Linked DNA regions of Homo sapiens: region 1 is linked to region 2. Evidence: fine-mapped expression QTL. A gene starts in region 2. The other region holds a variant in brackets. All regions are shown on one strand. Distances are between the middles of the regions. Region 1 overlaps USP9X (ubiquitin specific peptidase 9 X-linked). Region 2 holds the start of USP9X (ubiquitin specific peptidase 9 X-linked).

Region 1 (5,530 bases), 150 kb before region 2:
TCACAACGAATACCACTCTTCCTCAAATGGAGACAAAAATGACTCACAAGCCCCTCACCTGGCACAAGGGGGCTTGTAACTTCAAAGCAACCAAGGTTGGGCTCTTCCTCCAAGCAGAAAAATTCACAGCCTTTTATATGTCAAGTTTTCTCTCAACTAGGAAGTCGTTAAAGTTTTTAAGTACATTACATATTTTGTTAAGGAGCAGCAGGAAATATATAAATCTCCTCTCAGATGGTGAGATGGTACACCTAACTCATCCAAATAAAGTTAACCTATTTCACTCGTTTAAAGAGCTTGGAATTGAGGAACTTTTAAATTAAAAAAACTATCAACTGGGGCCAGGCGCGGTGGCTCACACCTGCAATCCCAGCACTTTGGGAGGCCGAGGCGGCCAGATCACCTGAGGTCAGGAGTTCAAGACCAGCCTGGCCAACGTGGTGAAACCCTGTCTCTACAAAAATACAAAAATTAGCTGGGCGTGGTGGTGGGCACCTCTAATCCCAGCTACTCGGGAGGCTGAGGCGGAAGAATCGCTTGAACCCAGGAGGCGACGTTGCAGTGAGCCAAGATTGTGCCACTGCACTCCAGCCTGGGTGACAGAGCAAGACTCCATCTCAAAGAAGAAAACAACAAAAAAATAAAAACAAAACAAAAATCAGTTGGAATTGCAAACACCGTGTGTGACTTTCACTCAAAGTATCGGTGTCAAAATGTCCTACAGGAACACCTAGAAGCACAGGTTGACTATACAGTACTACAAATAAGATACCCAAAGCTTTATCTTAAATACCTGCCCCTTTTAATCACAAAATAATGCAATGCTCAATTTTGTTTCTGCTTTGTTCAGTTCCAAGTGTAGCCTTTTGACAAAACATTTCCCTATTAACTGAATTGTAAAAAATACAACCAAGCTTGTGCTCATTAAATATACATGTATATAAAAAACATACAAAAAGTACAAGATTATGTTAGGAAACTTTTACAGTGTCAACATCCTGATTTCTCAAAATCTTCAGTAGAGGGCCAAAGGTCAAATCTTTCTGTGCACAAAAACTTGATGTGACTGAAATCCTGAATCAGTGTCATGCCTAGGCATGCTATGCACAGAATGAATTTTAATATGCAGTCCTCTTTTAAAAAAAAAAAAAAAGGACAAAAAAAGTAACCAAAAAAAAAACCAAAAACACACCACAGGACAAAAAGTTCTTCTTAAATCAAATTCTATTTGTGAATTCAGCAAAATAATTTCTATAAAATAAAACAGCAAAATATTTAAATAGAATAGGGTGGGCTGTATCTGTTTGCAGGGGTATTTGGTTTTTAGACAGGTTCCAAAAAATTACACACATTCAAGTTACCAATTCTCTTTTAAATACAGTATGAACTGAGGATTTCCTTATTTTTAATCAAATGTTTATTCTGAAATTGTAATATCTCAATTATATCAACCAGTAGTTTCTTTTTTAATGAGACCCTGCTTTGAACGTTAAACGTTTTGGAATAATGGAAAAGGAGCTAGGACAATTCTTGCTTTCAAGTAAAATTGTGACTGAGCAGAAAATCAGCCAGCTATCTTGGTGCAGAGAGGTACTCCAAGTACCGTGGGGTTCTGATGACTTCCACGTCACTGGGATCCAACAGAAGGAAAGTTTTAGAAGATTCACCTAATAAACTCTACCAAAGAAACAAAACAAGCACACCAAATACAGTCTTATATTATGCTCCAGCATCTTGGCATAGCAAATTTTTGCATATTTGTTTTAAATCTTTAAAAATTCCCATTACTGATACGTAAGTGTTCTTTATTCCACCCAGAGATTGAACTGTCAAACATTATATATAAGGAACATATGTGCAACTGAAAATAGACTGTCACATTTCTCCCCTTGTTTTATATTTTAATATTCTAGGTGTAAGAAGTAAAAGCTCTGAGTAATACAGCTGTCACTTCTCGGACAACTGCTGTCATTATGGTAACTTTTTCCTCATTGGCTACACTAACTTGGTGTGAAGCCATGCTAAATGTTACAGCATAACTATAGCTTCAAAGTGATTAACCTAATATCAGAATAAAAAGGCAATGAAAAAAATCTAGAAACAGTGTTACATCACCAATTTTCCACATCAACCAAATAATTTAAAGGTTACCAGCCTTACATTGCTCATAGCAAAATTGACTCCAGTGGCAAAGAATTAACATGAAACTATTGGTGTGGCTGACATGGATGGGCTCTGTTTTGTTGCTGTTGGTTTTTTTTTTTTCTTTTTTGTAAAGGAGCTGATCCAACTGCCATGAGGCAGGCAACACTGGTTGCAGAGTGCAGTGGGTGTAACAAGAAAATTAACTTTTGTAGTTTGTGTAGATCTGTGAGTCTCATCAAGAAAAAAGTTTCTTGCTTAAGAATTAACAGTCAACATTAATATACTATATACACCTTTGCCATTTACACATTAGCATCAGGCCATTTATTACAAAACACTATACACTTTCCACTGCAGGCGGGTTA[T/C]ATATTGACAGCAAATTTCTGCAGATAAGACAGTGAATAAACTCTCCACTCCATGTTGATTAGGAATAGTTTTTCTAGTTTTAAATATTAGCCAGACACAGAAAAAGGTTGGACTGTAAGGCCTGGGTGCACAGTCTTGATGGAACCAGTTAATTATGTGCATTTCATTGATCCTTGGTTTGAGGTGGGGATACTTCTTCACTGCCTTCATAATTTTCTTGTGCTCGTTGGCCAGTTCTCTGAGGGTTGTTCATGTGATGTGCTGCTGGGCCTGTATATGGCTGTCCATGCACATGGTTATTCTGGGAAAGGAGAAAAGATCTGTATGTTAAAACTTTTCACATAGTAAAACAACTTCAAAATCATGGTCTGAAGTCTCTGGAAATGTATACTCTTATTCTTGGGACTTACTCTGTAAATACCCTTGGACTACTATAGTGCAAAACAAAAACAAAAACAAAAACAAAAAAAGGCTTGAAAAACGTAGTGTAAATGCAAACCCCAAAACCCTGAATAAGAGCAGTGATTGTGTAGGTCCACATAAATCTTTGGCCAAAGTGATTTTTAGTGCCAAAAATTATTTAGACTCAAGTCTGGCAAATAAAGGATTAACCCACTGTTGCTCTTGGTAAAAAATTTTCAGAGAATGATCTATGAGCATCTATTGACTCTTCCACATGCTAAATCCGATTGACTAACCATGATGTAAGATATATAGGAGCAGTAACCCTGAACTCACAATAATGCTGATTAAAAACAGAACAATGTTCAAGATGATAAAGTAACCAGGCATGATTAACATAAGAGCTTTCTCAGGGTCAAAGGAAGTTAACCTTCCTTGTGGATTTGGTTCCTTAACCTTTTAAAATGTCTGAACCCTACAGTGCTCTCATTTTTCTGTACATGCTCCATCAGCCAAGCCAAGATTTTAGGCTTAACTTTTTTTTTTTTTTTTTTGAGATGGGAGTTTCGCTCTTGTTGCCCAGGCTGGAGTGCAATGGTGCTATCTCGACTCACCACCACCTCTGCCTCCTGGGTTCAAGAGATTCTCTTGCCTCAGCCTCCTGAGTAGCTGGGATTACAGGCATGCGCCACCACCATACCCGGCTAATTTTGTATTTTTAGTAGAGACAGGGCTTCTCCATGTTGGTCAGGCTGGTCTCAAACTCCTGACCTCAGGTGATCCACCTGCCTCAGCCTTCCAAAGTGTTGGGATTACAGGCATGAGCTACCGCGCCTGGCCAGGCTTTACTTTCTATAGATGAAAATAAGTACGCTGAATGTGTACTTCCTAACTATTCAGTTTGCTTCTATGTACACAGTGAAATGTAAGAAAGAATGCCTGAAATGTTTCTCCAAGTATGGTTCCTGGACCACCAGCAGCATCACTTGGGAACTTGCTAGAAATGTACATTTTCCAGCCCCTTGAAGACCTATGAAATAAGACACTTTAGGGTAGCATCTAGCTCTCTGCTGGAGCAACCCTTCCAGGGAGACTCACGCCTGTGCAAGTTTGAGTACCACTGCCTCACAAGAGCTGATTTAGTCACATTTTGGTTTCAGAAAGAAAAAGTTATCATTTAGAATGTTTCTTCATCTCATTTCTTTTGCTATTTACTAGTTTATTTACTTTAATCACCTATGGAAATCTACCCAAATCCTTTTTTTTCCAGTGATTTTTACCATCACTGAAACCTGTGGCTAAGTAACCAAGGACTTCTTACTTCATTGCCATATCTTAATAATGTTTTTGGAATCCAGGTGAAGATTTTACCTCACCGGAAATGTCACCACAATCCTTTGCACTAAACAATGATCATTTTATGTTGATATAAATTCTCATACAGTTTTATTAACTACTAGCACAAGAAGGACACCTTCTTGACAAGGAAAACCCTACAGTGGTTAAGTTCAAACATGTTACACCATGACCCCCACTCCAAACCATCCCTCTTCTGGATCATGCTCCCAAAGCTAGTCTAGATAATCCTACTTCTTACTTTGTAGTCACAACAAACAATTGAGCCATCCTCTAAAATTAAGCATAAAACCCAGTTCTAGGGGATAAAAGCATAAACTGACTCCTGTTTACCTGTTGATACTGAGATCCAGGTGAATGGGGGTACAATGGGGCATCTTCAGGTGGAGGCGACTCATGTTCATCTGGAGCATCTTGGTCATCTGGCTCCTAATTTTGAATATTTCAAGATAAAAAATTACGTAGGCAAACTCAAGTTTACTTTTAACTTTTTCTATTTGAAATAAATTTTAAAAATCTACAAAACTGACCCATTAGCAACTTTTCTTTTACTGCAGATAAAGAACTTGGGGAAAAAACAAAAAAAAAAAAAACAAAACAAAAAACCTGATTTGCATTCTCTCAGAACTACTACATTTCAGGCAATTTCACAGAAATTTCTCCAAAAGAAAGCTCCCTTCATTAGCTTAAAATGACATAGAATAAACATTCTTTTCTTTTCTTTTTTTGAGATGGAGTTTCACTCTTGTCACCCAAGCTGGAGCCCACTGGCACGATCTCCGCTCACTGCAATCTGTGCCTCCTGGGTTCAAGTCATTCTCCAGCCTCAGCCTCCCAAGTAGCTGAGATTACAGGCGCCTGCCACCACGCCCGACTAATTTTTCTATTTTTAGTGGAGATGGGATTTCACCTTGTTGGCCAGGCTGGTCTTGAACTCCTGACCTCAGGTGATCCGCCTGCCTCGGCCTCCCAAAGTGTTGGGATTACAGGCGTGAGCCACCATGCCCAGCCGAATAAACATTTTTCAAAACCCAAAACTTCAACATAATCTTTTAATAATATCATTAATACATAAACACTGGCCTATAAAATAAAGAATTACTTTGCTCTCTTCCATTTCTATCTGCTGCACACTGGTGGCTTTTTTTACCTCCTCTGGACAGAGTTCACAAGCTTTTGCAAGTGTCATCCTAGCACTATGTGATCTCTCCAAGAAATAACCATTGGACGTTTCATTGCTTTGCACTGGGGGAGACCAATT
Region 2 (5,000 bases):
AACAAAACCATGAGAACTATGGACTATGGAACACCAAACTAGAGACCCCAATAACCTGGTGAAAGGTAAAATCTGCCCTTCAATGTTCCTTCCTGAAGTAACTTAAGATTCTCACATGTACTGTTGCTGGTGCTATTACTCCCTCCAGAAATTCTCAGAAACTACCAAGGTCAGCAAACAAAAGAAACATGAGAACGCTGATAACCAGAATTACAAGTTACATGTTCATGCAAAAAAATACAAGAAAAGGGGTAGAGAGAATTCATATAGTCCAAACGTCCTATTTTTAAATTAGAGAAAATAAAACAGTAAAATACCAAAGACATTTTGAGTTCACCTGTGGAACACCAATTCCAAATACTTCAAGCTTTCACTCCACCCAAAAGCTGGAACGATAAAGTTTAAAGGGTTAAAGTTAGATGTATGACACAGCACATGAGTTTAAAAATTGAGAAAACGAATGTTGACACTTTTTTATATTTAATACATAATTCTTCAAGAATTTGAAGGTATTTGCTGAAACCAAAATGGCAGCCCAGCGAATTAGAAGACGAGCGAGATCTAAAGGAGAGTTTATAGTCTCTATTTTTGAGTTCAAGTGTACTAACCAGCCAAGCTAGTCATGGTTAAGGAGTCCTTACCTAAGGGTAATCAGCTCCGAGAGGGTTAAGTACCTGCTGGAAAGTTTCCTAATCAATGCACCCCAAATCATTCTTCCTCAAAAGTGAAAGTATACAAACGTTAAGTAGATTTAGGGACTCATGGGTTTCCAGGTAAAAGAACAGTACACATACTTCTCTCCCCGAAAAATAAAGCATGAATATTTAATCTATACCTACAACTTGCTTATTTAAACTAAAAGACAATCTGAAGCAATTATATACACCTGTAAACTGCACCGTGTAAATTCAATTAACGTTGTAACTATGGAACTTCCAAAAAATAACATGCTTAATTTAAGCAGGTTCTACTAGAAATTTTGCAAATTCTCGTGTAAGTTCTAGTCGCTACAGAAATCCACACAAATAATTTAAGAAGCCATCTACACACCTGCTGTATAACTCTTTAACTTATTTCACAATGAATGAAAAATCAGCCATTTATCCAACCCTAAGCCTCACGTCACAAGAATCTGAAGACCTGATCACTACCAAACTCGCACATGCTAATATTTGCAGAAACAGTTAAAAATAGAAAGGTAATAGGTCCAAGCTAGCTTGGAAGCGATTTCTGCATTCAAAAACCCCTTTCACGGCTTTGGCCCTCTGCAAATAAAGCGGGGCGAAGGAGGTGTAGGAGGCCGATAACCCAGCTCCCACTCCAGGAGCCCAGGGCCGGGGAGAAACTGCGGGTTATCGCGGGAGGGTGGGGGGAGGCGGACAAGTCGTCAGGCCTGATAGCCAGGCGTAGCCGAGGCCTAGCTCCCCAGCTCCAAATCACTCCACCTCAGTAATGGCGTTTGGTGTCAAGTGGAACCAGACCGGGTAGGAAAGCGGCCGCCGGGCGGGGGGCGGCCAGCCCCCAAACCGACCCGGCCCCCGGGTGCGGACGGCGGGGGGGCTGCCCGCCACGCCCGGAGACTCCATCCTCCTACTCGGCCCCAGACAGGACGGGAAGGGGGAGGAGGGGGAGGGACGGAGCCGTCAGCCATTTTCCCTTACAGTCCAAAACACACAGACACGCTCTCGGGACACCGGCTCCACACACAACACGGGCCCGCGCGCCCGCCCAGCCCGGGCCGGAGGAGGGGGAACGGGGAAGCCCCAGCCTGGCCGGCAGCCGCCGAGGGAAGAGGCTCGCACACACGCACACCCCCCTCGCCCTCCTCCCCTCACCCACATCCAGCTGTTGGCCCCGGGAAAGAGCGTCGCCCCAGTGCAGCTGGCCACTCACCGCACGACACAGACGTCTTCTCACAACCAGGGCACACGGAGGCGGGAGGCACCAGGCGACGGTGGGGCTCGGTCCCGGGACGAGACCTACCCTGGGTGCATCCCAGGCCCGGGGGTGACCGGCAACAAAGTGTATCGAAAGGCTGCGGCGGCCGGGCTCGGGGCTGCGGGCGTCTCAACCAAAAGGCTGCACACCGGCGCCGGAACTCGCTCCTCGCCGCGCCCGCCTCCTCCTCCTCCTTGGCCGGCGACGGCCCTCTTCCCCTTCTCCCCTCAGGCTGGGGCTCTCGCTGAGCTCAGACGGGCTCCGGGCGGTGCGTTTCTCCTGCGTCACCTCCTCCTGCTCCTCCTCCTGCAGCGACGGCTTCACCTTCCCCTAGTCGCCGCCTCTGTCCCCGCTCCAGGCCTGGTGGCTTTGAAGTAGCTCGCTCCTCGCTCCCGGCGCCGACCCAAGCACCGGGCGCTAAGGCGGCCGCCTCCCGTGAGAGAGAGGCGGCGGCGGCGGGCTCCCGCGAGGCCCGGGAGCTGTGTAAGGCGGGGAGGGGCTAGGCGCGACAGAGGCCCTGACGGGGCCGGGTGCGGAGAGGTTGCGGCTCCGGCGGCGGCGGAGACTAGCGTCCGCAGCCGCGGATGCCCGTCCTCGTCAATATGGCGGATCCGGCAAACCAAAAAAAAAAAAACCGCTCGGCCAGTGGCGGCGGCGGTAGCGGCGACGGCGGCAGCAGCGGTGGCGGCGGCGGCGGCGGCGCAGACTCCCACTAGCCCCAGAGCCGCCCAAGACCCGAAGTTCTCCGCCCCCGTCAGGGCCCGCCCCTTTCAGGCCCCTCCTTTCGGCCCTCCCCCTGCTCCTGCCCAGCCCCCTCCCGCTCAGCTGCCCCCTCTTCTCTCCCTCCACCCCGGGCCGTCAAGGCTGGGAGAGCAGCGCGAGCCGCTGAGGGGGCCGGGCTTCGGCGCGAGCCGCCGGGAACCCGGAGAGCTAGGGTGGGGGAGGGGAAGACAATGCGGTAAAGATTGTTCGCGCAGTACTGTTTCTTCCGGCTGGCCCCTTCAGGGTCGTGCTACGGCCAGAAATCCTGTTCCATGCCCCTCGGCTCAGGAGCGGGACGAGGGCAGAGGTGGCTCTAGGACCGAAGTTGGGGAAGGGAGGCCCGAAAAGATCTGGCACACCACTCGGGAGGGGCTGGGCGGCAGGGACTGGCGGGGTGTGTGGCCACGACAGGGTTAATCGCGTGAGCCGCAGCCGCGTCGCTCATAGTTTGACTCGGGCCGCTTGTTTTTGTTCCATTGTGAACCGTAGCCCCGCCGACAAGAACCCGGATGATGACGTCACCGGCCTCCCCCTTTTCCGGGACCGTGGGGGGAGGGGCGCGGAAAGATGAGATCTCGAGACCACGCGCTGGGCGGTCGCCGCCGCGGTGCCTGGAGGTCCCGGCGGTGCAGCTGACCCGCGTCACGTGACGCACGAGCTGGCCGGGCCACTGGCTGCGGGGGCGCGAGGTCCCGAGGGCCTGGCCACCTGCTTGGCGCCGATAGGGGGAAGGTGTGGCTATCTCCCGCAGCGGAAGGAGGGGGCGTGGGGAGTGAGGTCCTTTTCCCCACCCCGCGAGGGAGGTGCTCTGAGAAACTCTTTCACACGATCATGCATCATCACTACCTCAAAGCGTTTAGGCGTCCTCAAAGCGTTTAGGCGTCCTCACAGCCTAGCTGACGGGACTGACCACCTTTTTGGCCATAGGAGCCCTTCAAACAGACCAGCAAAGAAAAAAATTATAAAGTGCCCCAGACGGCTTAGCGAATAGGCCGTACTTGATGTGGCAAGATTAGCCTCCATTGCCAGATCATCAGCACAATTCGGTGTTAGGACCCGGAAGAAACTTATGAACCCATCCGCTGTGTCATGGACTATTTTCTACATGTTTATATTCCAAAGTGCGGGCATAGGAAAAACTTAGGCTAATCTCAAATTAATGGGGTGCTTGGAACAAATCTGTACAGTCTACCTAGGATGCCCAAATGAAGAGGAAATTAACAGTTCCTAATTTACAGATTTCCTTTTGACTTAAAAAATACCTGTGGACATCAAATGGCATGCAAAATCATAGTAAAACCCTACAAACCGAGATCTATTTTATAGAGAAGAGGGTTGAATTTAGTTATGCTATGATTATATCAGTTTGTAATAAAAGACTGTTAAAAATGGAACCAAACTAATGTAGGTGACAGTGAAAGCAAGTTATTGGTATCTTAAATTTTTAAACCATTTCTCTATTTAGCACAAGATTGTTTACAAATTTTTCACCACAAATTATCTAATAGGGTATCCAAGATGTATCATTCATAGCCCTAATAACTCTTAGCATATGTTACCTTGTTTTTATAATTATTTCCATGAATCATTTGCTTCCCCACTAGCTCATGGGCTTCTAAAAAGCAGACACGACCACCCGCGTACACTATAGGCTGTTATTTTCTATTTTAGATAAGGAAACAGAAAGGGTAAATGATTTGCCCGAAGTCAGGATTGGAAAGTGTTGAACACTGGTCTTTTAACCCTATCAAAAGTGCACCTTTAACAAGGATGTCCCCTCTCACCAATTCTGTTCAATATTGTACTTGCAGTTCTAGCCTGAAAAAGAAATGAAAGGCATCCAGATAAGAAAGGAACAATTAAACTATCGCTACTTTCACATGACATGATTTTATATATAGAAAATCTTGGGAAATCCATTATAAAAAAAATAAAGCCAATAAGCAAGTTCAGCAAAACTGCAGGATATAAGATCAATATTTAAACATCAGTTATAGTTTTACACACTAGCAATAAACAATCTGAAAATTAAGTTAAAATTCCATTTACAATAGCATCAAAATCAATAAAGTTAAAAATCGATTTAACAAAAGAAATGCAAGATTTGTACATTGAAAACTACAGAACATCATTGAAAAACATTCAAGACTGAAATAAAAGTATTAAGATAGCAATACTCCTCAAATTGATCTACAGAGTCAATGCAATCCCTATCAAAATCCCAGCAGGCTTTTTTTTTTTTTGCAGAAATGGACAAGATGATGCTAAAATTCATACAGATAAGGAGTTTCCCCCCCACC

What was found.
Region 1: its variant is fine-mapped to the expression of USP9X in whole blood (TOPMed, PIP above 0.99).

The regions. Positions count from the first base shown.
Region 1 is chrX:41,229,669-41,235,198 of GRCh38, reverse strand. USP9X (ubiquitin specific peptidase 9 X-linked) reads right to left here. Exons shown (of 45, transcript NM_001039591.3): 43 at 5,420-5,530; 44 at 4,603-4,698; 45 at 1-2,812. The coding sequence ends at 2,675. Among named protein-coding and RNA genes, the nearest start is that of LINC02601, 43 kb to the left of the region's middle. The variant T/C (reference allele first, on the strand shown) is at 2,511.
Region 2 is chrX:41,083,003-41,088,002 of GRCh38, reverse strand. It overlaps USP9X (ubiquitin specific peptidase 9 X-linked), which reads right to left and starts at 2,558. Exons shown (of 45, transcript NM_001039591.3): 1 at 1,894-2,558. RefSeq lists silencers at 1,364-1,823, 2,524-2,903, 3,334-3,403 and enhancers at 1,948-2,485, 3,024-3,563, 3,313-3,607.